Regions from separate parts of the Homo sapiens genome. Here region 1 is linked to region 2. Evidence: fine-mapped expression QTL. Tissue or cell type: pancreas. Region 2 holds a variant in brackets; the other region holds the start of a gene. All regions are shown on one strand. Distances are from middle to middle.

Evidence for each region. PIP is the estimated chance that this variant, and not a neighbour inherited with it, causes the effect.
Region 1: it holds the start of C1orf115, and the variant in region 2 is fine-mapped to the expression of C1orf115 in pancreas (GTEx, PIP 0.91).

The regions. Positions count from the first base shown.
Region 1 is chr1:220,685,913-220,696,088 of GRCh38, reverse strand. It overlaps C1orf115 (chromosome 1 open reading frame 115), which reads right to left and starts at 5,726. Exons shown (of 2, transcript NM_024709.5): 1 at 5,378-5,726. The coding sequence starts at 5,686. RefSeq lists a silencer at 5,656-5,895.
Region 2 is chr1:220,705,026-220,715,201 of GRCh38, reverse strand. No RefSeq gene overlaps it. Among named protein-coding and RNA genes, the nearest start is that of C1orf115, 20 kb to the right of the region's middle. The variant T/C (reference allele first, on the strand shown) is at 4,178.

The DNA of each region.
Region 1 (10,176 bases), 19 kb after region 2:
TGTAAGTCCAGCATTTCCAATACCATTATAAGCTCCCTGATGGTCAGGCTTGGGCAATGCTTTCTTGGTAACCACTCCTCCTCTTCCTTTTCTACAAGGCTGGGTAGGGGACATTCAGGGAATGTCAGGTGCTAGACAGGGGACATCTAAAGGACTCAAATGTGATTGCAACAGAAAAATTACCACCACCACCACCAAACATTTATTGCACGGCTGCCCATGGTCTTCCCCTCCGTACCTCAACTTCTGTCATCACTCTTGGTGATATCAATGTCCATGCAGATAACCTGTGCCTTAGGCCACATACCTTGTCTCTCAGTCCTTTGACTTTTCCATATTACCATAACCACTCAGACTGGTTTAACTTAAAATTCCTGATCACAATCACATATCTCACCTTGACTTCCAACACCACCTGACAAACCTCCACATCTGTCCAGTAGGATGAATTTCTCTCTCCCCCGGGTACTGCCTCATACCTTTTCCCTTCTTAAGCCTCCCCACTTGCAACACACACGAACACACCCAAGTCTCCATACCTTCATGAGATGATCCCACTTCACCTTTCACAGAAAAAAAAAAAAAAAAAAAAAACCCAGACATCGTCAGGGAACACGTTCACCTTCCACCACTCTCAACAGCCCTGCCTGTGGCTGCCCCTGGCTTCTCCCGCATTGCCTGTGTTACGGTGGAGAAAGTGGTCTTCTTCCCCCAAGCCATTCCCTTGATACTTGGTGTCAGTGCCTTCTCCCACCTTGATCTTGGCTTTCCCTTCACCACCTCCATCATTCGCTTCCTCTCCATTGGATCCCATTAGCTTACATACATGCTCGGGTATCACCGTGACTCCATATCCTGCCCCAGTCTCTGCCCTCCATCGTGCCAAGCCAGCCAAAAGAGCCAACCACATATACTGCCTCCATGTCTGCGCTTCTTATTCCCTCTGACTCCGGCTCCTACCCCAACCCATGAGGGACTGTCTGGTCATGGCCATCTACAACCCCCATGCTGCCTGACCCAGTGGACGCTTTTCTGTCTTTCTCTCCCTGACCTCTCAGCAGCTTTTGACATACTTTATGAAATAATCATGTGGCGTCTTTGACTCCATATTCTTAGTTCTCCCCTACCTAAATAGGGAGCTCCTCCTCAGCTTTCTTTGCTAAATTATCCCTTCTACCAGACTTTAAAATGTTGGTGTTGTTCAATACTCAGTCCTGGGTCTTTCCTTCTCTCTTTCTTTCCCTACAGTCTCTCCTTAGATGGTCTCATCCATTTCTAATGACTACAAGTATCTCCTAGATTTGAAGAACTCTTTAGTTCAGACTCAAATATTCAATTCGTTACTTGAGATCTCCACTTTTTGAAGACCCCACAATTCCTCTGGCATGCACTCTCCCTTGTAGCCCTAAGCACATAAACCTAACGTGGATTGGCTACTGGCATGTCCCTGGTGGCCTTTGTCTATCAGACTTCAATCATTCAAAGCACAGAGAGATTACATCTGTCCACATGTATATATCTGGTTAGGGGCAGAGCTGAAGTTCAATCCCAAAGAAATCTCACTTCAGGGCCTATGACCTTAACCCCCATACTATGTTTCCCTTTTTAAATAAAGGCAATATGTAAGCTTCTAGTTAACCACTCATGCCCTGGGCTTGAATTCCAACTCTATCACTTACTTAATTTCCCATGGCCTCGGTTTCCTCACCTATACAATGGGAATATTTAGTAACCACCTCATTGGGTTGTTAAGAGGAGTAAATGAGATCATGTAAGCAAAGCACTGAGAACAGGGCCTGGCACAAACTGCAGGCAGTATAAGTGCCCCCCAATGTCAGCTATTATTACTGCTAAATAACATCTGCTTCTTTTGATTACATAGCAATTTAGGTTTGTGGTGGTGATAGATAAACCCAATATTTTTGTTGTCTGTTTGGGAAAGTTTCTTAAGACTATAATTTCCTATGACTTCTGGCTTACTTGAGCTTTTTTTTTTTTTTTTTTTTTTGAGACCGCGTTTTGCTCTTGTTGCCCAGTCTGGAGTGCAATGGCGCGATCTCAGCTCACTGCAACCTCCACCTCCCAGGTTCAAGCGATTCTCCTGCTGCAGCCTCCCAAGTAGCTGGGATTATAGGCATGCACCACCGCGCCAGGCTAATCTTTTTGTATTTTTAGTAGAGACAGGGTTCACCATGTTCGTCAGTCTGGTTTCCAGCTCCTGACCTCAGGTGATCCACCCGCCTCAGCCTCCCAAAGTGCTGGGATTACATGTGTGAGCCACCACACCCAGCTGAGCTTTCAATAGTTTAAATTACAGGGTCCCTCACAGTAACAGAAGGAGGGCAGGGACTCTGTTGTGCTCATTACTGTATCCTGAGCATGTAGAAAGAGGCTGAGTGTTTCCTTTGGTACCTCTCCCGCTAAATGAGGAGCTTTGCAAGAACCAAGTAATGTCTGTGTCTTCTCTAGACACTGCTTTCCTGGACATTACCCTGTTGATGTCTCAAAGAGACACTGGGCTGGGGCATGCGCATGTGTGGGTATGTGATGTTGCTAAGAGATACAGTTCTTTAAATGTGTGATAAGAATCACTGGGGGAATTTTACTTACATGTTTGAAACAACAAAAGAAAAACATATTCTCTGGGAACAAGCTTAACAATCAAGAGTGATCCATTATAAACAAGATCAGAATGACAATCGCCTGCATTAAACGTGACATTTTTGGTATTTGTACATCCATTTTGCTCAGCCTGTTATACTTTAAAAGCTACTTGTCACTTTGTAATTTAGGGAAAAAAAATCTACTAAAATAGTTCATTAACTGGAACACTGTTAAAAACACAGATTTGAGAAATGAAATGCAAAGAAACATAAAATATCTCTCAACCACTATTTCAGTGTCATTTAAGAGAGTGCATTTGGAATTCTTTGATCTGAGTAGAGCTTTCTACCCAACTACTCTCTCAGAGGGGAGCTGGGGTCTCGGGGAACAAAGAGGGGTCACCTGCTTTATATCTCCATGTTTGAGCCTGGTGACCCTCTCAGGTGGCTCCAAGAAAGTAGAAGCTGAAGTCACTTTTGAAGGGCAGAAAGGAGAGATCCAACCCTAACCTGACGACATCCTCTCACCTGGCCTCCTGGGTCCATTGAACTAGCGTGCAACACTCTAGAGCTTTCATGCCCACAGCTGGGCTTGTGATGGCCCCTCTACCTGAGATGACACCACTTCTCTATCCACTGAAATCTTGTTTTTTTTGTTTGTTTTAGTTAAGGCAAAATTCACATAACATAAAATTCACCATTTTAAAGTGCGTACAGCCCGGTGGCATTTAGTACATTTACATTGTTGTGCAACCACCACTTCTATCTAGTTCCAAAACATTTTCATCATCCCCAGGAAAAAACACATTACCCATTAAGCAGATGGGCTCCATTCCTCTTTCCCGCAGTCCCTGGCAACCACCAATCTGTGTTCCATCTCCATGGGTTGACCTATCCTAAGCATTCCATACAAATGGAATCATACGCACAATATGTGATCTTGCGGGTCTTGTTTACTTCACTTAGCATAATATTTTTAGAGGTTCATCATATTGTAGCATGGATTAGTACATTTCCTTCCTTTTATGGCTGAATACTATTCCATTGTATGTATATAACACACTTGTTTATGCATTCATCCATTTAGGGACATTTGGGTTGTTTCCACCTTTTGACTATTGTAAATAATAATTCCATTAAAATGTGTATATAAACATTGATTTGAGTACCTGTTTTCAATTCTTTGGTTACATCCCTAGGAGTGGAACTGCTAGATCACAGAATAAGTCTACACTGAACTTTTTAAGGAACTCCCAAATTGTTTTCCACAGCAGCTGTCCCATTTTACATTCCCACCAGCAATGTACAATGGTTCCAATTTCTCTACATTCTCGCCAACATTTGTTATTCGGTTTGTTTGGACATTTTTTGGAGTAGCCGTTCTAGTGGGGATGAAGTGTGCCTACTTCATACCACTTCACTGTTATCTGGTGAAATCTTAACTCATCCTTCTGTGCCCAGTTTTCATGTCACCGTGATTTGAAAACTTCCCTGAGTTTACAAGCTCACCGCTGAGGAGTGAACTGCCTGAGCTCTGTGCCCTGAAGCCCCCCCGGGGGCGGGGGGAGCCAGCTATGTCAGTGTCTCCCTGGGAGGCTGTGCCCTTCTCTAGGGCAGGGCTGCACTGTATTCATTTTCGCATCTCTACTGCTCAGCACAATGCCTGACGCATAATGAGTGCCCCCAAAATATCTTCAAGTCCTAGTCCTTGAGCTGAGGTTTCTGCAGTATCAGTTCACCAATGGAGAGGGACATGATGGCTTCTTTGTGCTCAACTGGGACCCAAAGCAGAGATGAATCGTCCTAGCAGGGCTCTAAGCCTGAAAGACCCAACTTTATAGTTTTACCCCTGCCTGTATTCTGCTCCAGAAGCTGCTGACATACCTTTAAAGAGGATGATAAACCTAAGCTCCCAGGCATGGAGACTGAATGGCTTCAGGTGTAAGACGGCATTGGGCAACACAGATAAATAGACAATAAATCAGATGGGGCCCGTGGCCTTTGGCCAGGACACAGTAACTTCTGTGACTTTATTCTGGGTGGCCTTGTCCAGGCCAGCAGAGCTTCCGGCAGCAGCTTCGACTGTTTCCATGCAGAGACACCTGGGAACTGCATCTGCGCTTTGATTTCCGCGAAGGAAACTGTCATTTTCTCCCATATTCATTCTTCCTAACCCCATCTCCCCGAGACAAACGGCAGAATGTTTTGAAGGCCCCAGAGTACACTGATAGTTGGCTAGACGAGAAAAATTCAACGAGCGCCTATTTATGTATTTGTTGCGCTCCCAGGCTCGGGAAATAACCTTGGGAATATTTGGGAGAGTAACCCAAACATTTCTCAACTAGTGGGATATCCTGGAGGGGATGTTACTGGAAAACAAATACACTGGGTTGCAATTTCTTTCTTTCCAACTGGGCCACCTTCTCCAAGTCACCTGCCGCGCTAACGCTTCAGTATTCCCATCTGTAATCAGGAAACTGATTCCTGATCTTACATAAAAACCACCGCGGTAGGAGCCCCTTGAGAATGTTCTTAAGAAGCCAGGAGCGCAATAGCAGGCACAGCAGGGACCACCCAGCGCAACCCCCGATTTAAGTTTCTATCACGACTCGCAACTCGCGGCTTCCCTCCGGCGAGGGAATGGGAGCGGGGGCGGAGGGGTCGCAGGTGCAGCCCGGAGAAACTGGGTGAGTCGATGGTAAGGACCCGGCTCCCGCTCCCCCGCGGGACACCACACCCGCGCCCCCCGGGCAGTGGTGGCGCAGGGCCCCTACCTTGCCGTACTTCTTCAGCTTCCTCCGGTACCTCTTCCTGGGCTGCTCGCTCGGCGCCGGCTCCTCCAGTGGCTCGTAGCGCTCGGGCAGGAGGGCGAAGTGCACCCTCCGCGCGCCCCGGGTCCCCGGGCCCCGCTCGTCCGCCGCGCTCGTCCCGCTCTCGGCCGCCGCCTCCGCCTCGTCCGCGTACTCCAGGTGCTCCAGGATGGCGGCCGCCTCCTCGTCCCCCTCGGTTCGCCCTCGCCCTCGGGGCCCGCGGCGCAGGAGGCTGCTCTCCGCCTTGCTTCGGAGCCTGGCTCCCACCGTCATGATGTCCCGGCCCCTCTGGCGAAGGTCCGAGCGCAAAGACACCAACCTTTGGTCCCCGCCCGCTCCTCCGCCCCAGCCCGGACGGGGCGGGGGATTGGGGGGGCCGCAGCGCCCCCTGGCCGTGGGGCCCGGGATAGCGTTGGCTCCGCTCCGAACTGGCCTACCAGGCGGCGGGCGCGCTCCGCCAGCCCCGCCCTTCATCCCACCTGCCGGCCAAACTGTGCAGACTACGGCGCGCACTGCACAATGAACATGCAAAACACCTTCAACTGCACTTGCTACGAAATTAATGACCCCAAATAATAGGACTCCATCTGCTCATGTTCAAATTAGCAACGATGGAAAATGATACTAGAGATCACGCTCAGTGCTAGGGAGGGCATGGCGAGATAGTCACGGTAACAGGATTCGTGGGAGTGCAAATTGGTGGCAAGGTTTTGGAGAGACGATCAGAAAATCTTTATCGTGAGTCTTAGGAAACGTCCGTATTCTAGGAAATATTCGGAAACGCAAGACAGTGTGTCCACGGTGTTCAACGGTCTGACTCAGTGAAAAAGTGGAGCAAACCAACAGGGAGGCGCAAAGGAAATTCTGGTGCAGACATGCCAGCATATGGCGCAGTCTTTAAAATCATGATTTTCAGGAATATCTCTCTGTGAGATAAGCATTATCAGTGTACTGTGAATCTCAACAAGCTGAGAGTGCCCTATTTTCTTAAGTGGGTAAATGCCTTTGAATTCTGGCTAATGTAGAATTAAGGGCCGAAAGCAGTGGCTCACGCCTGTAATCCCAGCACTTTGAGAGGCCGGGAGGATAGCTTCAGCCCAGGAGTTGGGGAACAGCCTGGGCAACATAGTGAGACCTCCATCTCTAGAAAAAAAAAAAAAAATTAGCCAGGCGTAGGGGCGCACACCTGTGATCCCAGCTATTCAGGAGGATCGCTTGGGCCTGGGAGTTTGAGACTAGCCTGGGCAACACAGGGAGACCTCATCTCTAGAAATAGAAAAACAAATACAAAAGTTTACCTGTAGTCCCAGTGAGGTAGGGAGATCGCTTGATCCTGGAAGGTGGAGATTGCAGTGAGCTATGATTGTGCCACTGCGCTCCAAAGGGGTCGACAGAGTGAGATCCCATCTCAAAAAAATACTTAGGTATAAAATAACATAGATTGTTAGATACACTGATATTTTAACATTAAAGTTTGTGATTAAATTTAAGAATAACGTGTATATGTTGGTATAAGCACATACAATGTTTACGACAATTTAGTTCACTAGGATGCAAAAGAAATTAGTTTTGTGATTCCAACTTAAAATGTGAGCCAGCATGGTGACTTTCACCTGTAATCCCAGCAACTCCACAGGCTGTGGTGGGAGGATCCCTTGAGGCTAGGAGTTCTGAGCAACGTAGGCCCCATTTCTAAAAAAGTGAAAATGTGTGGCTCGGTGCGGTGACTCACACCTGTAATCCCAACACTTTGGGAGACCAAGGCGGTGGATCACCTGAGGTCAGGAGTTCGAGACCAGCCTGGCCAATATAGTGAAACCCTGTCTCTACTAAAAATACAAAAATTAGCCAGGCATGGTGGCGTGCTCCTGTAGTCTCAGCTATTCGGCAGGCTGAGGAGGAGAATCGCTTAAACCCAAGAGGCAGAGGTTGCAGTGAGCGGAGATCGTGCCACGGCACTCCAGCCTGGGCAACAGAGTGAGACTCTGTCTCAAAAAAAAAAAAAAAAGTAATCAGCTAATTGATTTACGCTTTTATTTAACTTATGTAATAAGGTAATAAGTAATGACTTATATTTAATCTTAAAAACATAGAGTCTTTATATGTAAAATAGTATATAAAATTTATGTACAATTCAATTTCAGGTGAAATGGGTATGAAAATGAATTTAACTTACTATATTTATAAGAATTACTTAGAGTTTTGTTATAGAATTGAAGTACTTGAAAAGAAAGTCAAATATTAAATTTGTAAAAGTTGCTTGAAATGTTTAGGAGAATTAACTAAACAGTAAAAGTGCCTCCTTACAGTAATTGTAAAATTTTATCGGGTGAGTAAATAGTTTAAAACAGTATGTAATTTGAATTTAAAAGGTTAAGAGAAAGTAGATTTGTAGATTTGTAATTTTGCTAAAGCAACTATTACTTTATAAACAAACAGAGACCCTTGTAGTCCCTTTTTTTTTTGTACAAAACCGACCTCAAAGAACCCTAGGCTGCTTATCAAATGGTGATATAGTTTGGTTCTATGTCCCCACCAAATTTCATGTTGAATTGTAATCCCCACTGTTGGAGGTGGGGCCTGGTGGGAGGTGATTGGATCATGAGGGTGGCCCTTCATGAATGACTTAGCACCATCCCCTCAGTGCTATCCTAGTAATAGTGAGTGAGTTATCGCGAGATCTGGTCGTTTAAAAGTGGGTGGTGTGCACCTCCCCCTTCTCTCTCTCATCTTCCTTCTTTGGCCATGTTTGCGTGTTTCCCCTTTACTTTCTGCCATGATTGTAAGTTTCCTGAGGCCTCCCCAGAAGCAGAAGCCATCATGCTTCCTGTATAGCCAGCAGAACTGTGAGCAAATTAACCCTCTTTTCTTTATAAATTACTGAGTCTCAGGTATTTCTTTATAGCAGTGCAAGAACGGACTAATACAAATAGAGACGAAGGTAGAACATCCATGGGCCTAAAATGTGTTTTTGTCAGTACAAAATACTGTTCAAATATCACAACAACATTTAGTTTGCCTTTAAAGGCAAAACACTAGAACAATTAAAAATTGATCTCCAGATTAAGTCTCTATAACCAGTGAACAAGCAGAATTTAAGGAGATGTAATCAGAAACTGTCTTTATGTTGCATTCCCTTGTCTCTCTACAAGTTATTCTGTTCAGAGAATGAGTCTCTTGCTCCTCGGTGAAAACTTAGGTAGTCTTGTAGGGTTTTTTGTTTGTTTGTTTGTTTGAGACAGAGTTTCACTCTTGTTGCCCAGGCTGGAGTGCAATGGTGCGATCTTGGCTCACGGCAATCTCCGCCTCCCAGGTTCAAGTGATACTCCTGCCTCAGCCTCCCGAGTAGCTGGGATTAGAGGCATGCGCCACCATGCCTGGCTAATTTTATATTTTCTAGTAGATACGGGGTTTCTCCATGTTGGTCAGGCTGGTCTCGAACTCCTGACCTCAAGTGATCCACCCGCCTAGGCCTCCCAAAGTGCTGGGATTACAGGCGTGAGCCACCACGCCCAGCAGTCCTGTAGTTTTTCTATTCACACAGAAGTAATAAGTCCCAACCTCTGTCTCAAAAAAAAAAATAAAATAAAAATAAACAAATAAATAACTAAACATAATCTTCATCTATATAATCCTAAATCGTATAATGTTCAATTCCATGTAATACTCAGAACCTTGAACTTGATTTAAAGTAAATCTTCTCTCCTCAGGCAGCACCTGATGTGGGTGTGTACCTGTGTGCAGTGGTGGTGAGAGAGTAGGGACTGGGGAGAAACAACAATTTCTCTTCTGCTTCCCCCACCTAGTGTTTCTCAGTCTCCCAAGCTTGTAAACTGGTTTCTGACTCTTCCAGGGCCAAAACAGAGAAGAGTGCAGAAAACATCTTCCATGGCTAGTATTGCCCAAGGTGTTGTCTCACCCACAAGGCCTACCAGGTGTTTGAAGCTGGTTGTCCATAGTTTTTTACAGGCCCTCACTGGAAACATTCTACTCTACTGGTTATGACCCAGCAAATACCCTTGAATCCCTGATCACCTATGCCCTTCTCAATCTCCAAGGGTCCTGTGGTTCCATGCCAATGCTATGGTCTGAATGTCTGTGTCCCCCCTTCAACCCCCAAATTCATGTGTTAAATTTCTAACCCCAAGTTGATGGTATTGGGCATGGGAGGCCTCTGGGAGGTGATTAGGTCATGAAATGTAGCCCTCATGGGACTAATGTCCTTATAAAAAGAGGCCCAAGAGAGAAACCCCTCACCCCTTCTGCCTTATGAGGACGCAGCAAGAGATAGAATCAGCTGGCACCTTGATCTTGGACTTGCCAACCTCCAGAACTCTGAGAAGTAAGTTTCTGTTGTTTACAAGTTACCCAGTTTATGATGTTTTTTATAGTGGCCTGAACGGACTATGACAACTGGTTTTCCTATCCTGAGCCTTTAAGATGGCCATGTGGATACAGGATTTGATATACGGACTTCAGTGCTTCCACATTTCACAAAGGGCTAGAATAGCAAGCTCTAGGCTGGGCCATCTCCAGTGTAACTCCTAGAATGACCACTGAGCTGTTACTTGTGCTGTAGTGAGGAAGCTGGGCACCAGGAGGCTGCCACTGGACCTGGTGGCTGTAAGGACATTAGCACCTCAGCTGCCACCTAGCAAGCTCCCAAATCCCGACAGTTAGCTACAGTCCCAGCCTTGCCTGTGTGTTAGTCAGCTAGAGCTGCCATAACAAAATACTGCAGTCTGGTGGCTTAAACAACAGAA
Region 2 (10,176 bases):
CTCTCATTCCAGAAGCAGTCCTGCCTCAAACCCTGGGGAAAGGAATGCTATGCAGAGAGGCCACAAAAAGTCTGAATAGACAAGCTTACTGGGTTTAGATCAGGCACTTTTTGTCCAATCACATTTCTACATGGTTGTCAACCGTATCTATGTAATAAAGCCTCAATGACAACCCAAAGGGACATGGTTCAGAGAGCTTCCAGATAGTTGGAACATGGAGATCCTGGAGGGTGGCATGCCAGGAGAGGGCATGGAAGTTCTGCTTTCCCTCCCCCATGCCTCACCCTATGCCTCTCTTCATCTGTATCTTTTGTAATAGCCCTTATAATAAACCTGTAAACACAATTGTTTTTCTCAGTTCTGAGAGCTGCTCCAGCAAACTAATCAAACACAAATTAATCCAGCAAATTAATCCAGGGGGGCATGGGAACCCCAACTTAAAGATGGTTGATCAGAAGTTTTGGAATCCCAGACTTGTGACTGGGTCTAAAGCGGGGGACACAGTCTCAGGGGACTGATCCCTCAAACTGTGAGATCTGACACTATCTCCAAGTAGATAGTACCAGCACTGAATTAGAGGATGACCATTTGGGTGTCATCTACAGAATTCATTGCTTGCTTGCTGGTAGAGAGAAATACCCACATATTTTGAGGTCATAGAAGTCTTCTGTGTTCATTATTACTGTGTTGATGTGAGAACAGAGGGAAAAAAAATGGTTTGAAAAACATGTTAAACATAGTTGTATACCCAAGAGAAATGGGAATACATGTCCACACAAAATATGTACACAAATGTTCATAGCAAAATTATTCATAATAAACAAAAACACAGACACAACCCAAATATCAATGGATGAATGGCTGAACAAAATGTGATGTATCCAACCAATGGAATATTATTCAGCCCTGAAAACAAATGAGGCACTAATACATGCTACAACATGGATGAACCTTGAAAACATCACGCTGAGTGAAAGAAGCTAGTCATCAAAGGCCACATTTTGTTTTATTGCATTTATATGAAATGTCCAGAATAGGCAAATCCATAGAAAAATAAAGTTGGTTGGTAGGTATCTGGGGTTGGGAGAAAATTTGGATTGACCACTAATGGGTACATAGTCTCTTTTTGAAGTGATGAAAACATTCTAAATTAGATTTTGGTGATGTTTGCACACCCCTGAAAACATAGTAAAAACCATCGAATTATACACTTTAAATGGGTAAACTGTATGATATGTGAATGATATCCCACTAAATCTGTTTTTTTTTAAAAAGACTGTCCTTATATAAAAATGTTTGTTAGAGGATACAGCAGCAACTTAGAAACAGGGCTTACATTATAGTCAGGAAAATGGATTCCTTGCATGCAAATATAAAGCAAACTGCAGTTCAATAAGCTAATGTAAAATCAGTAACACTTTCAGAGCTAAGGGATTTCAGAGGTGGGAGGGGTCCTCTAGCCAGAGGAAGAGGGAGATAGGGAGAGGTTCAGAAAAAGCTTTCAGCTGGGCCTGAAAATGTGAAAATTCCTAAGTAGGAAAGTACAGAAGACCTAGACGTGTGGTCCTGCAGGCTGATCACATCATGGACAAAGGCAGAAAAGATGGAAATGTGAAGGACATGGCCGGGTGTGGTAGGTCACGCCTGTAATCCCAGCACTTTGGGAGGCCAACGTGGGCGGATCACTTGAGGCCAGGAGTTTGAGACCAGCCTGGCCAACATGGCAAAATCCTGTCCCTGCTGAAAGTACAAAAAAAGTAGCCAGGTGTGGTGGCAGGCGCCTGTAATCCCAGCTACTCAGGAGGCTGAGGCAGGAGAATCTCTTGAACCTGGGAGGCGGAGGTTGCAGTGAGCCGAGATGGCTCCACTGCACTCCAGCCTGGGCGACAGAGAAAGACCCTGTCTCAAAAAAAAAAAAAAAACTGTGAAGGACATGTTCAGAAAGTTTGGCTGTAGCCAAGGGTTTGTATAAGGAAGCAATGGATTTTTTTAAGTCAATTGAATAGGTTATAATGGTGTATTTTTGTGCTAATTTGCATTTCTATTATTATTGAGGATGTATTTGCAATGTTCTTTTTTTCCTTTTAATTTACAAGTGTTTTGTTTCAATTCTGCATATATTATAATTTATATTACACACACACTTTTTTTTAAATTTAACCCACAGTTCTATCTGAAATTTGGGTGAGAATATGGCATGATATAGGGATCTATTTAAATTATTATTTTTTACATAAATAGCGAATTGTCCCATCATCATTTATCAAGTAATCCACCCTTTCCAGATAGATTTAAAATGCCTCCTCCATCACATAAACAGTAGCTCCAAGCCCGCAGACCCCGTTTGTCGTCTGGTTTCTCATGCTTCCAGCACAGCACAGTGGTGTGCAGTTTGGGAAGCAAAGATCTTGCAGAGATCTATCCAGAAGAGAACACTGGAGGCCTCCCGAACAAGCAATAATAGAAGATTATGGTTCATTCCACACAGTCACTTCACAGTGTGCTGGAGAAGGCATCAAATGATCTAGCAAATGTCCATCACCGTATGTCTGAGTGGTGGAATTACCAGTGTTTTTCATATCCCTCTTTCCTCCATTCAAATCTTCTGTGAGTAAATATTCAGAAGACGAACAATAAATAGTAATCAAACAAAAACACTTTTAGGACATTTAAAGCCTTGAAAGGTTTAAAGTAACTCATCTGCAGGCACGTCTGGGTCCACCACGCAGTGTTATCCTGGGTGCAGGGGCCCCTAGAGATCTTTGTGCCCAAGCTCACCTGGCTGGCTCCCCGCAAGAGCAATCATCTCTAAGAGTGTGAGCCTATGGCTCCAGCCAATCCGGATCCATCTAAACTCTATTTCCCCAGGAGCAGTTCTCCCTTCCCTCAGCCTCTGCCTGAAACATCACCCCTTAACTGAATAACAAGGGGGTGCGCTGCATAAAAGTTGCTGCCCGACCAGGAGCCGTGGCTCACGCGTGTAATCCCAGCACTTTGGGAGGCCGAGGTGGGTGGATCACCTGAGGTCAGGAGTTCAAGACCAGCCTGACCAACATGGTGAAACCCTGTCTCTATTAAAAATACAAAAAAATTAGCCGGACGTGGTGGCGGGAGCCTGTAATCCCAGCTACTCAGGAGGCTGAGGCAGGAGAATTGCTTGAACCCGGGAGGTGGAGGTTGCAGTGAGCTGAGATCGCGCCATTGCATTCCACTCCAGCCTGGGCAACAAGAGGGAAACTCCGTCTCAAAAAAAACATTTTTTTTGCTGCCCATATTTCCCTAAGGAGAGGGGGATTTCACTGAACCCAATACTGTATTTGGAAGCCACAAAGTTGTTTCTTCCCTAAGTTTTGGAGAAATCAACATGGGGAACCCACAGACCCTCAAATGGGAAGAGAAGTGCTTGGGAAAGGGGAACTGCCTAGTGTAAAGTCCACCTGGATGACAAGCATAAAATGTATGTGTGTGTTGAGGGGAGTGGGAGAACCAGAGCAGAAAAAGCCTTTCGGGATCTATCTGGAGGGAAGGCATGACCAAGAACGGTGTGGAATCCACCCAGCCTGAGATGTCTCCTGTGGGGCCTTGTGCAAGGAGAGGCCTCTCGGTCTCACTTCCTCATTTGAATAAGAAGGATAATAACATCTATGTTACTGGGCTCTTATGAGGATTAAATGACGTGATACTGAGCACCTAGCAGGGCCTGAATTTTACTGAGGCGCGCGTGTTAATTTCCTCCACTCAGTTCTGCCTTATATGCACAAAAGGCACCACTTCTGTCCCCTTCAGGAGGGCCTGAAATGTGCCTTGAAGCAGACTCCAGAGCCAGGAGACACCAATGGGGAGTGTGTGTACAGTAAGTCTCTGTCTCCCCCAGGGAGGACAAGGTCAGGGACGGGGCCAACCATGTGACTGTACAGGTTCCAAGGTAAAAATGACAAGGGCACAGGAAATACTTTGGCTGCAGCAGAAAACCCCAGAGCTTGGCTTTGCACATTGTCTTTCTGGCCCAGCATAGAGGCATTGTGCAAATTAAACAAATAAACAGTAATCTTGGCCTTGGGCTCAAAAGTCTCCACATTCTCCTGTTTCTTCCTCCAGCTGGTGCCTTCCCTGTCGCTCAGACCAAAATCCCAGAGAATTATTTGGTTCCACGCTTTCCCTAAGTCCCACACTTACA[T/C]AGACAAATTTTGTTACCTCTGTTTTCTTTCCTTTCCTTTTTTGGGGGGTAGGGGGGCAAAGGGGTTGGGGACAGGGTTTCTCTTTGTTGCCCAGGTTGGAGTACAGTGGCAAAATTATAGCTCACTGCAGCTTCAAACTCCTGGGCTTAAGGGATCCTCCAGCCTCAGCCTCCTGAGTAGCTGGGACTACAGGTACATGTCACCATGCTCAGCTAAACATTTTTCATTTTTTTAGAGACAGAGTTCTCACTATGTTGCCCAGGCTGGTCTCAAACTCCTGACCTCAAGCAATCCTCCTACTCTGGCCTCCCAAGGCACTGGGATTACAGGCTTGAGCCAATGCACCCATTTCCTCAATATGGCTCCAGTGGGCTTTCTCTTTTCCATTGCTCCTGGACCACCCAAGGCCCCTTCCACTCCTCTCTGCTTCAGCAAGGCACACCCCAGGCCAGCCTGTTCCCATAGCAGTTAGAGGGATCTTTTCAAACCATGGAGTGGATCCTACTGCCACGCCTCCCCACTACTTAGAGCCTATCAAAAGTTTCCCCTTCACTTCCCCTCGCTGTCAATACAGCCTACAGGAAGTGGGGAGAAGGCACCTCCACTTCCCACCCCCACTCCCTTCCTCTCCCCTCTCCAGCGAAACTGGCTTCCCTTCCCAACCACGCTGAGCCCCCACCCTCCTGAAGGCACTGAAGGCATCCCTTCTGACAACCTCGCAGCTCTTATCCCTGCCCAGAGCGCCTGCCCCAAGGCTGTCAAGTCCTCCCACAGGCCTCCCTGCCCATCCACCGGAGGCTAAGGCCTCCTCATTTGCTTCCCCCATAGCAGCTGACTACTCATTTGTCTTTTATCCTTGGTCTGCCCCTCAGTAGGAGGCAAGGAGGCAGGCACCATGCCCCTGGTTGCTTGTGCACTGTCCCAGCCTAGTGACAGGTGCAGAGCAGGTGTCAGGTAACATTTGTTAAATGTCTGAGTGACTAAATAGATGAAAGAATTAGCCGGGCATGGTGGTGCATGCCTGTAGTCCCAGCTACTTGGGAGGCTGAGGCAGGGCATCCCTTGAACTCAGGAAGTTGAGACTGCAGTGAGCTGTGATTGCACCACTGCACTCCAGCCTGGGTGACAAAGACCCTGCCTCAAAATAAATAAATCAGTAGGTGAAAGGAATTGGTAATGAATGACACTATAGAGCCAAGCACACTTCTTTGACTCTCCAAGGTACAGTGTCACGGTGGGTTAGGGTAGGACCCTAAGCAGACACCCACATATTGGACTTCAGGCTGGCATGGAGCCCCAGAATTTGTATGGGAGCTTGAGTGCTGACTTTTTGGAGAGAACCCAGCACCGGTCATGCCAGCACCTCCTCTCTGGGCTGTGTTTGTCTGTCCTTGTTTACTATAAGAGATAGGAACAAAGTCAAAGTATTTTTCCTACTCACACACCCAACACTCAACACAAAACACTTCTGAGACCAGATGTTCCCCACACACTAAACACTTCTCCGGTAGACTCCAGCTGGGTGTCCTATAATTCAATCGATTTGGACCTGAGCCACCTGGAGTCAGTCAGATCCCTCAGGTTAAGGGCCCAGTCCTGCCAGACCGCCTCCTACTTCAGACGCCAATCCCAAGTGGTAGGTTGTCATCTATACTTCTGATCAACCAGCTATAAATCAGAGTTCTCATGACCTCTTCCTTAGGTTCAATTAATATGCTAGGATGGCTCACAGAACTCAGAGAAACACTTATGTTTACCAGTTTATTATCGTAATAAAGGCTGTGATAAGGATACAGACGAACAGCCAGATGTAGAGGTATATAGGGCAAGGTCTGGAAAGGTCTCAAGTGCAGGAACTTCTGTCCCCAAGGAACTGTGGTGTGCCACCCTCTCAGCATGTGATGTGTCTACCAACCAGGAAGCTCTCTGAACCTTGTAGTTCAGGGATTTTTTTTAAGTTTCATTTCATTTATTTATTTTTAATTTCAACTTTTAGGTTCGGGGGCACATGTGCAGGTTTTTTACATTAGTATATTCTATGATGCTGAGGTTGGGTGTAATTGATCCTGTTAGAGAAATGCAAATCAAAATCACAATGAGATACCATTTCATACCAGTCAGAATGGCTATTTTGTTCATTTCTAATTTTTGTGGGTACATAATAAGTGTATATATTTATGGGGTACCTGAGATATTGATATTTTTGATACAGGCATACAATGTGTAATAATCACATCAGTGTAAATGAGGTATATATTGCCCTCAAGAATTTTTTTTTCTGTTTTTTAAATCATTTATTTTTTTTAATTTTAATTTCTGGGATACATGTGCAGAACCTATGCAGGCTTGTTACATAGGTATACATGTGCCATGGTGGTTTGCTGCACGTGTCAACCCATCATCTAGGTTTTAAGCCCCACATGCATTAGGTATTTTCCCTAATGCTCTCCCTCCCCTTGCCCCCACTCCCTGACAGGCCCCCAAGTGTGATGTTTCCCTCCCTGTGTCCATGTGTTCTCATTGTTCAACTCCCACCACTTGAGTGAAGCTCAGGGAATTTTTGGAGGCTTCATCACATGGGCACGATCAATTATTAACTCAGTCTCCAGCCCCTCCCTTCTTCTCAGAGGATGGGGGATGGGGCCGAAATCTCCAAGCTTCTAAACATGGCTTGTTCTTTCTGATGCCCAGCCCCCATCTAGGAGCCCACCAAGAGGTGCCTCATTAGAACAAAATATGTTCCTATCGCCCAGGAAATTATAAGAGTTTTAGGAGCTCTGTAACAGGAACCAGGGGCAGAGACCAAATATACATTTCCTATCTTATCAGTACTATGGTTTGAATGTGTCCCCTCCAAAATTCAGGTGTTGCTAATGGGATGGTATTAAGAGTTGGGTCTTTCAAAATGTGATTGGGCCACGAGGGCTCCTCCCTCATGAATGGGATTAGGGCCCTTATAAAGGAGCTTGACAGAGAGTTCACCCCTCTTGCCCTTCTGCCTTTGTCCATGTGAGGGGACAGCCTTCCTTTCCTCCAGAGGACGCAGCAACAAGGCGCCATCTTGGAAGTAGAGAGCAGCCCTCAGCAGACACTGAACCTGCCAATGCCTTGACCTTGGAATTCCCAGCCTCCAGAACTGTGAGAAGATAACTTTATTCTTTATAAATTACTTTGTCTGTGGTATTCTATTACAGCAGCACACATGACTAAGACATCACAAGATCTCATTCACTCTTCAGCAGATGGACACAGAGCCCCTGCTCCATGCCAGGCATCGTTGAAGGCATGAGGATTCAGCAGCGAACAAACCTGTCCCTGCCCTCACAGAGGTGACATTCGAGTTGGGGGAGTGAACCTGCAAACAAGTGAGCAAACTGATGGAGAAGTAAGTACGGACAGGGCTGGTCATGAGCAGGGGGCTGTGAGGAAGTCACACCTTAGATGCGGTGGGGCTGGGGCTTAGGCGAGTTCGTCACTTTGCTTCAGTGTCCTCATCTGTGAGATGAACTAATGAGCGTCTCTCCCTTTAGGGCCCTGCCCTCCTCTGTTCAAAATCGTGCAGCAGTGCGTCATCCCACTCTGAGCAAGAGCCAAGTCTTCACACGGCCCATGAGGCCTGCGTGATGGCCCCATCCCCAGCTCCACGCCCCCCAACCCAGCTCCCTGTCCCTCTGCTCCTCCTGGGCATCCTGCTGTTCCTCAGTCAGGCCAGGCAACACATGGGACAAATGCCATCCACATCCGGACCACACCTAGGGCAGCCTGTGGACAGCCCCCAGAACTATAGCTGAGGGTCCCACCCTTCCCACCCACGCACACTTTCTGAACACTCTGCTCCAGGCAAAGGGTACCTGAGTGCAGCAGCAGGGCCGTTGGAGCAGCTTTCTCAGGGCTGTCAGCAGTGACCCAGGGAGACCTCCCTCACAGCCTACTTCCTTGTTCCTGAGCAGAGCTATCCAATGGAAGTACCCAGAGCCCACACACTCCCTACAGATTTTTATGTTGGACATAAAACAATGAACAGAGACTAATGTTGCCCTAGATGTACCAAGCCTCCTATAGAGATTTGTACTGTTTCCTTTCTTGCCTTCTTCTTTCCCTCCTTCCCTCTCCCAGCCAAACATGAAGCACCCACTATATGCAAACATCAGGCTGGGGCCAGTAGGGGAAACCATATCTGTGAACAGGTAATTCTCATACGCAGCAGAATAAGACAGGGGCTGAATATCGGGACACACATCGTGCTCCCCTGTCCAGAGGCTGATTCATTCCAGCTGCTGAGATCAGGGAAGGTTTCATTCAGGCGGGGCCCTTGCTTTGAGAGAGAAGCAGAATTTAAAGTGCAGAGTGGGGAGGCTGGGGTGAAGGCCGGGAGTGGCCTCTCCTGGCCAATCCTGACTGTTCTGCCACTGGGAACCTTGGTCAGGAGGGAGCCCAGGGCAGAGCGGATGGTGGGGTTGGGAAAAACAGCCGCAGGGCCAGCAAAACAACACAGATACCTATCCGAGATGGGGCAGAAGCGATTCCCATTGTTTTTGTTTCCTTTGTGGGGGGCAGCGTGAGAGGAGGCGGCAGGCCTGATATTGTCAGAGTGGCCTTGGGAGCTGCTTAAGAAGTCAAGAGGGAGCCCAATAGGAAATGGCCCTCATGAAATGAAAGACAATGATCCAAAAAAAACAAGAGGTGATTTTCTTAGAGGCAGGACAGGAGAAAACACCTCAGACTCAGCATGCCAGAGCAGGGAGGGATGAATGTACCATCTACTTCAACCGCACTGTTTTGCAGAAGATGCCCAGATTCAGCTAGGTGGGTGACTGGTTCGAGGTCACATGTGGCTGATTGCCTTGCTGACTCCCAGTATAGCGCTCAGGTTGCTTCCTGGGGCTGAGAACAGGCAGAAAGGAAAGCCCTAAATGCTTTCTTTCTCCCTGCCTCCTGTGTCAGCTGAGCATGGCTCCAAATTCCCAGCTAAGCAGGACAACTTGCCCAGGTGTCCGGGATGACCTCATGGCATAGCGCCTCAGCAGGGCCTTAAGAGGAGGAGGCTACTGCCCCACCGCTCCCTGGCCTTGGAGGTCAAGGTCTCCTGATAATTCCCTGCCAACTAGCATCCGTCGCTCTAAAGCCCAGGCTATCTAGGAGGGCTGGCTCCAGTCCCGACCAATCAGAAGAGCAAACAGGTTATTATCATTATTATTATGATAACAACAGATTATTTTATGCTTGCAGCAGAAGGCACCTGCTTTGTAAAGGCTTCTGTTTGCCAAGGTCAGTTCATGATTGAGGCACCCGCCACTGCCCTCTCCCTGCCAGCCCCTGGTCTCCCACTCCAGCCACACTGTCGCTTCTGAGTTTCTTTCACCTTTAGGGTCTTGCATCTGTAATTACCATTGCCTAAAACCCTCTTCCTCTCCCACCCTTCTGTACTTCCTCTGCCTGGGCATCACCTACTCATCCACAGGCCCCAGCTTGGATACCCCTTCCTTTTGAGAAGCCTTTCCAGGATGGGGTGAGGTGCCCTTCCTAAGGGCCCCCTCAACCCCTGCTTCTACATGCTCATCGTACTGGATTATAGTTGCCTGGAAGTGTGCAAGACAATACACACCAAGTTCTTTCTGTGGGTTTCACTATTGTGAGAATTCACTCACTCCATCCTGCTGATGGCTCTAGGAAGTGGTATTACCCCCATTTGTCAGTTGGGCAAACTCATCAGAGATGTTGAGCCTCTTGCCCAAGGTCACACCGTGAGTTGTGGAGTCAGATTCCACAGAGCCAGTGTGGTGGACAGATCAATATGCTACCCAGATCCTCCTTCGAGTGAGGATATTGTGCCACTTGCTGGGAGTGTTGTCAGCAGACAACTTTGCAGCGCAGAGCCCCTTCAAGGATTGCCGCAGCAACCCAGAGCTGCCTGGCCTCAAGGTATCTCTGTCCCAGGGCAACTCGTCCATCAGTTGATCAACGTCAGGTATAATTGTTACTGGAAAGAGGGGTTTTG